2 linked regions of the Homo sapiens genome follow. The protein of the gene in region 1 interacts with the protein of each later gene in a pairwise test. Each region holds a gene or a part of one and is shown on either strand. Other genes may lie near its edges.

The links.
Region 2: the proteins of MAP4 (region 1) and NOP58 interact in a two-hybrid assay, tested with the Homo sapiens proteins (one large-scale study listed by BioGRID).

What each region holds. Positions count from the first base shown.
Region 1 is NC_000003.12:47,911,820-47,915,826, forward strand, and holds part of MAP4 (microtubule-associated protein 4), read right to left. Parts: intron 3,121-4,007; coding exon 2,998-3,120; intron 603-2,997; coding exon 1-602. UniProt on the Homo sapiens protein: Non-neuronal microtubule-associated protein. Promotes microtubule assembly.
Region 2 is NC_000002.12:202,268,602-202,272,608, reverse strand, and holds part of NOP58 (nucleolar protein 58), read right to left. Parts: intron 1-4,007. UniProt on the Homo sapiens protein: Required for the biogenesis of box C/D snoRNAs such as U3, U8 and U14 snoRNAs. Part of the small subunit (SSU) processome, first precursor of the small eukaryotic ribosomal subunit.

The sequences.
Region 1 (4,007 bases):
AGTTTTGGGGGCTTCTTCAGAAGGATATAAAGGAATTCTGAGACTCTCTGAGACAAAGTTCTCAGCTACCAGTCTGGCTGCACTGGAGTTAACTAAACATTCCCTTTTCAAGTTTTCTCCAGATACAAGTCCATATTCTGTACCCATAGTGGTAGGCTGGCTGGGGAGAACACCTGATTTTTGTGTGTCAGCTGCAAATGGATGACCTTTAGGCTTATCTGCATTGTCATCATCCGAAGGTCCTCCAGCCCGTGGTTGAGAATATCTCTTTTGCTTTGGTTTCTTCTTCTTTTTCTTCATCATTATTGGTGTGCTTTCTATATCCCAGGCCTCCCTGCCAAGATCCCTCTGGGGTTCAAGTGAGTCAACATGAATACTTTTTCTTTGGTTCCCAGGCCCACCACAGGAGGATGAACCAGAGACCCAACCTGACTCAGACAAAGAGCAGTGGCCCAGCCTGTGATCAAGAGTCTTCCATGGAGGAGAGCCTCCCAGCAGCTCAGGAGGGACCCTGGCAGGCTTGGGCCGGGTTGACCTGCGGTCACTGGGTCTGCAAACTTGTTTGGCTTGTGTGGGAGGGGTACCGCAATACATGAAGTTGGCTAAAATTCCAAACAAAAAACTCCTCGTTATTGTTTCTTAAAAACAACAAAAAACAAACAAACAAACAAAAAAACCAGACCATATAAATGACTAATTTAAGGAGGCTATTTTCACTAATACATATAGTACTTACTGTAATTTGCTCAGGAAAACAGTCTTTTCTAAAACATTTCTCACTTTTAACTGGCGCTAGCAAAAATATTTAACAGATCATCATCTCAGGTAAAGATTGTTTTCAAACATTTATAAAATATTTGAAATTTCAGAAGTAGCAGGATTGAACTTTTAAAAATGAAACATTTCACATCTTTTAACCTCTAAAAATAAGCACTTACTGCCTGTAAATCTCATCTGATTTATATTGGTCATTCTTAGTGCTTGCCTCTTTTTGGTGAAATTTATTAATTGCTTCAGTTAAATATACATGATTTTGGACAAAATTTATAATTCTAAGACTAGGTCACCAATATTAAACTAATACTTGTCAAACAAACCAGACAGATTCTGGGAACTAGATCAGAAGGCCAGACTTAAGTCACTTCACGCACACACACAAAATATACTGAATCCACATTTTGGTCAGAGAAAAATTCTCATGATTCCAGAACCAGAGCATCCTACTTTGAAAGACAAATATGTTAAATTTCAACATTCTGCTCCTAAATGTACTTCCCAAAAGACAGAGAAATATATATAATGTTAAGTAGGATAATTAATTTTAACAATTAAGATGAGTACCTTTGGAAGAGTTTCAGCAGGTGATCTGGTCTAACCTTCCTCCCAGTTAATATAATATGGATCCAAGATCCTGGCAAGAGTCTCATTAAGAGCAGGTATATGCCAGCTCCTGTCAAGTCTGACCCAATAAATTGATTTCCAAGAATATTATAATATGTAAATAGTGGATTTCATTCTTGTCCTTACCCCTCCAATATCCTCTAAATCCTAGCCTTTGTTTAATATCTCAGGTTAATTATTGCATCGCTCAAAAAATTGCTAGGCTATAGTATCCCCCAGTATTTATAACATTTAATTCAGCAATTAATCAGCAGCTATTCAGTGCCATCTTTTATACTATTTTATTCAATTATTATGTAAATCTTGGGTTTCAGAGTTCATGCCTGAGAACTTATCTCTTCATTCAGGTTATAATATAATAATTCAGGGGGCAAGGACGGGGACTTAAATATCTATATGCCTTAACATGGTGTATTTTGTATACCATAAGCACTTGATAAATCTTTACTGATTTGTTGAGTCAGTAAAACAACATTTAAAAAAAAAATCACACATTTATTTAAGCTCTAGTCTTGTGCTAGGTAGTGTGCAAAGCATTAGAGATTCTAAGTGAAATAAGTCATGGGCCCTTATGTCCCATATGTCAGGATGTCCACATTCCAATCATAGTCACAGAAAAGTAAACAGAAAATCAAGTTGATAATCATATACATATGCTTCTGGGTTATTAAAAACAGGTAATCTTCAAATTCACTGAATAATCAAACTTTAAATTGGAAAGTATCTTAGAGCAGTACCTCTCAAAGTTTAATGAAAATTAGAATTATCTGGGGATCTAATTAAAATGCAGATAATAATTACAAAGGCCTAAGGTAGAGCCCAAGATTCTGCATTTCTACCAGCCTCTCAGGTAATGTAGATGCTGTTGGGCCATGGAACACTGTAACTAGTAAGACTTTAGAGAACATTTGACCAATTAATTTATATTATAGCTAAGTAAACTGAGATATAGGCAAGTTATGTAACTTGCTTAAGACCACACAGGATAGAATAGTGAATAGCTGAACCAGATCAAAATTTGGGTGTCCTTTCTTCACTATGAAAACAGTGGAGAAGGCCAGGCACGGTCGCTCACGCCTGTAATCCCAACACTTTGGGAGGCTGAGGTGGGCAGATCACCAGAGGTCAGGAGTTTGAGACCAGCCTGGCCAACATGGTGAAACCTCATCTCTACTAAAAATTAGCCGGGCATGGTGGCAGGCGCCTGTAATCCCAGCTACTCAGGAGGCTGAGGCAGGAGAATCGCTTGAACCCAGTAGGTGGAGGATGCAGTGAGCCAAGATCACGCCATTGCACGCCAGCCTGGGCGACAGAGTGAGACTCTGTCTCAAAAAAAAAAAAACAACGACAACAACAACAAAAAAAACAGTGGAGAAAAAAAAAATTAGGTATCCTGATTTGCTGTAGTAGTAATTTTTAAAGATATAACAAGCTGACATTCTGTCTAAACCAGATAAAATCTGTCTAAGAGAATTGACTTCATAAACTATACTGCTGATTACCACCATACAACAGGGAACTAGAGACAATGTCTACCATCACTACTCTATCGCCCCTAATTTGTTTCAAAGAGTTCATTTTGTTTTCCTAACTTACCTGAGGTCTCTGAAGAAAGCTCAGAAGGTTGACTGTTGCATGGTTTCCTTTCCCCTAGTTTTTCTAACACAGAATCCTCCTCGGCCGGCAAGCTGCACTTTTTCCCCGTTCCTGTGACGGTTTCTAAAGGTAATAACAAAAGCCACACACGTTTCAGAGAAGCATGATTTCAGCTATTTTCCATCTGCCAGAAATTGGATATGGGATTAGTTTCTGAGGAGTTCTCCTACAAGGGGCAGCAAAGGAGTGAAGTGGTAGTTGGAAGCTGAAGTTGGGAAGGTATGTCTAGTTATGTTACTTTTTTTTTTTTTTTTGAGATGGAGTTTTTCACTCTTTGTTGCTCAGGCTGGAGTGCAATGGTGCGATCTCGGCTCACCACAACCTCCGTCTCCCAGGTTCAAGTGATTCTCCTGCCTCAGCCTCCCGAGTAGCTGGGATTACAGGCATGCGCCACCATGCCCGGCTAATTTTGTATTTTTAGTGGAGACGGGGTTTCTCCATGTTGGTCAGGCTAGTCTTGAATTCCCGACCTCAGGTGATCCGCCCACCTCGGCCGCCCAAAGTGCTGGGATTACAGGTGTGAGCCACCATGCCCGGTCAATGTTTCGTTTTTTAAGATGGGAAAAATAACAAACGTTTGTTAAATGGGTGGGAATGATCCAATGAAAAAAGATTTAAATTGGTATGAGGGGCAAAAAAGGGAAGAATACATGGGGCAATATATCGAGTAGGAAAGAGGAGATGGAATCTAGGGCAAAATGAGGAGAGGTTGGTCTTAATTAGGAGCAGGAACAGTTTACTTATAAAAACGGGAACTTTCATAAGCAGAGACCATGGATACAGATACAAGTAGTTGGGTAGATAATGGAATAGAAGTTTGTCGATGTTCTATTTTATTGCTTGACTTATCTGCAAGAAAAACAGGACAATCAGCAGAGAATGAACATAGAAAAGGTGTTGGAGGTGGGAGGAGGGTAAAGGCGGGAAAGAGTTGTCTAGGAGAGCAGGAG
Region 2 (4,007 bases), on another chromosome or scaffold:
CATGATATACAAAGTTAGAGCTATTAGTTTATAAATTGTTAATACCAACTCTAGGCTTTGTAGTTGTTTATTGCTTTGTGTGACTCTAAGTTTTTCTAGTTTGGGTTATTTTTACCAACATATCTAATTCAACCATGTGTGATTAAATTTATACAGGCTGGGCACGGTGGCTCATGCCTGTAATCCCAGCACTCTGGGAGGCTGAGGCGGGCGAATCACGAGGTCAGGAGATCGAGACCATCCTAGCTAACACGGTGAAACCCCGCCTCTAACTAAAAATACAAAAAAATTAGCTGGGCGAGGTGGAAGGCGCCTGTAGTTCCAGCTACTCGGGAGGCTGAGGCAACAGAATGGCGTGAACCCCAGGGGGCGGAGCCTGCAGTGAGCTGAGATCGCGCCACTGCACTCCAGCCTGGGCGACAGCAAGACTCCGTCTCAAAAAAAAAAAAAAAAAAAAAATTATACATCAGAACAAACCCCTAAAATCATCTTGTCACTCATCTAAGTTTTATACAACTTGCAACATTGTGTTTCTCTTACTGAAAATAATATATAACCAGACTAGAACTGCGTCTTAATGTGTAGATGTGCTATATTATGGACTTGATAAATAATGCTTATTAGCAAAGTATAGTTTTAAATTTACTAGCTGTGTTGTTTTTCCAGAGACAGGGTCTCGCTTTGTTGTCCAGGCTGGAGTGGAGTGGTGTGGTCCTATGTCACTACAGCTTCAAACTCCTGGCCTCAAGCGATTCTTCTGCCTCGGCCTCCCAAGTAGCTAGGACTATAGGTGCACACTGCGACATCTAGCTCTTTTAAAAATCTTTTTGTAGAGACAGGGGCTTGCTTTGTTGCCCAGGCTGATCTCTAACTTCTGGACTCAAGTGATCCTCTTGCCTTGGCCTCTCAAAGTGCTGGGAGTGCAGGAAGGAACCATGGCGCCTGATCCAGCTGGTTTTTTAAATAAAAATATATGCATAATATCTGTGCATACTCTATTTCACAAAATTTAACATGCTATTCTTTTTTTTTTTATTTTTGAGACGGAGTCTTGCGCTCTGTCGGCCAGGCTGGACCGCAGTGGCGTGATCTCAGCTCACTACAACCTCCACCTCCCTGGTTAAAGCAACTCTCCTGCCTCAGCCTCCCAAGTAGCTGGGATTACAGGCACATGCTGCCATGCCTGGCTAATTTTTTTTTTTTTTTTTGTATTTTAGTAAAGTCGGGGTTGCACCCTGTTGCCCAGGCTGGTCTCGAACTCCTGAGGTCTGGCAATCTACCTGCCTCAGCCTCCCAAAGTACTGGGATGACAGGCGTGAGCCACCACACCCAGCTTATGTTATTCTTTTACACTCCCAATTGACCTGTCATCAATTGTAAGACATCCCAATTTTAGGGATGTTAAATATGGGGGTTGTGCCTTTTAGGATTGAGCCCATCCTATCTAATACTTGGGCAGCTGATACAGAATATTGGTGAGGGTATATGGAATTAAGAATTTTAATCACTTTTTTTGTTTTTTTTTGAGACAGTGTCTCGCCCTGTCACGCAGGCTGGGGAGTGCAGAGGCGCGGTCTTCTCACTGCAACCTCCACCTCCCTGGTTCAAGCGATCCTCCTGCCTCAGCTGGGACTACAGATTTGGCGACACACACCACCATGCCCGGCTAATTTTTGTATTTTTAGTAGAGACGGGGTTTCACTATGTTGGCCAGGCTGGTTTCAAACTCCTGACCTCATGATCTGCCCACCCCAGCCTTCCAAAGTGCTGGGATTACAGGTGTGAGCCACCATGTCCAGCCTCCTCATTTTCATTTTTAATTGATTGCTTGAGACTTTGTGTGGTTTTTGTTTTGTTTTGAGATGAGGTCTCACTCTGTTGTCCAGGCTAAAGTGCAGAGGCTCAATCACAGCTCACTGCAGCCGTGACCTCCCTCCCACCTCAGCCTCCTGCAGCAGCTGGGACTACAGGCAAGCACCACTGTGCCCAGCTAATTTTTTTTCCGCCATGTTGCCCAGGCTGGTCTGCAACTCCTGGGCTCAAACAATCCTCCTGCTTCACCCTCCCAAAGTGTTAGGGTGACAGGCGTGAGCCACTGCACCCAACCTCTATGTTTTGTGTAAATTATTTGATGCTAACTTTTAAGTTTCACTTCCACAGACAATATGAGCAAGTTAATATTTTATGAAACTTGTTTAAATACAGGATAAAACTGATAATTAGTTTAAAATGTGCACTGCTCAAAAAGAAACAAATCCATACACGCAACAAATGTGAAAAAGCTCTTCGGTTAGCTTCAGAAGCATTACACTAAGTGAAAAAAGCCAAACACAAAAGACTAAAATACTACTCCACTTACATGAAACTTCTAGAAAAAATTATGCAAAAAGAAAGCTGAACAGTGGTTGTCTAGAGCAGGACTAACTTGAAAATGGGCATGAGAACTTTTTGCAACAAAGTGTACTATAAAACTGGATTGTAACTAAAACCTATAGGTGAGTTATACAGTATGTAAAGTACACCCAATAAAGTTAGAAAAAATATATTGCTCAGTACTTAGGTTTTATATAGACATTTGGTATGTACATCAAAAATCTTTCTCCAAACCTTGAGAAAATGAAGTGACACAAAATGCTATGCTACACAGCTACACTGTACAATATAACCATTAAAATTCAAGTAAGTTAAAATTCACTTCCTCAGTCCTATCAGTTACATCTCATGTGAAATGGTTATACGTACTAATGGCTACCACATGGAAGAGCAGCTGAAGGAAGTCTGGTATGAGCAAGACTAAAATCTTATGCTGTGTGCCACGTGACACAAGGACACAGGTGGAATTTCTTTTTTTCTTTTTTTCTTTTTTTTGAGACGGAGTCTTGCCCTGTCGCCCAGGCTGCACTGCAGTGGCGCGACCGCAGCTCATTGCAACCTCTGCTCCTAGGTTCAACTGATTGTCCTGCCTCAGCCTTCCAAGTAGCTGGGGTTACAGGCGTGAGCCACTGCTCTCGGCCACAGGCTGAATTTTTATAATATCCTAGAATTAATCACAACAGTTCCTTTACACAATGTCTTTACATTTATATATATATAACCCTGTTAATGAGCAATAACTTTTTGGAAGTGTTTTCCTTTTGAATCGCTCTAAACACATAAGTGGGCAGAACACCGTACCTCATGGCTGTAATCCCAGCACCTTGAGGCCAGGAGTTTGAGACCAGCCTAGGCAACATAGTGAGACTCTGCCTCTTAAAAAAAAAAAAAAAAATTTAGGCCAGGCATGGTGGCTCACGCCTGTAATCCCAGCTACTTGGGAGGCTGAGGCAGGAAAATCGTTTGAACCCAGGAGGCGGAGGTTGCAGTGAGCCGAGATCACACCACTGCACTCCAGCCTGGGCAACAGAGTGAGACTCCATCTCAAAAAATAAATAAATACAAATACAAATAAATAAATAATTAGCCAGGCATGGTGGCTTGAGCCTGTAGTCCCAGCTACTCGGGAGGAGGTGGGAGGATCACTTGACCCAGGAGGCCAAGGCTGCAATGAGCCATGATCCTGCCACTGCACCCCAGCCTGGGTGACAGAGCAAGACCCTGCCTCAAAATAAATTTTAAATACATAAACATGAATTTGTATGTGTACATGGGTTATACATAAAATGTTTTCCTCACTGTAAATGGAAGTTTAAAAAAAACTTCAAGGCCAGGTGCAGTGGCTCACGCCTGTAATCCCAGCACTTTGGGAGGCTGAGGCGGGCAGATCACCTGAGGTCAGGAGTTCGAGACCAGCCTCAACATGGAGAAACCCTGTCACTACTAAACATACAAAATTAGCTGGGCGTGGTGGTGCATGCTGGTAATCCCAGCTACTCGGGAGGCTGAGGCAGGAGAATTGCTTGATCCTGGGAGGCAGAGGTTGTGGTGAGCCAAGATCGCGCCATTGCACTCCAGCCTGGGCAACAAGAGTGAAACTCCGTCTCAAAAAAAACAAAAAAACAAAAAACTTC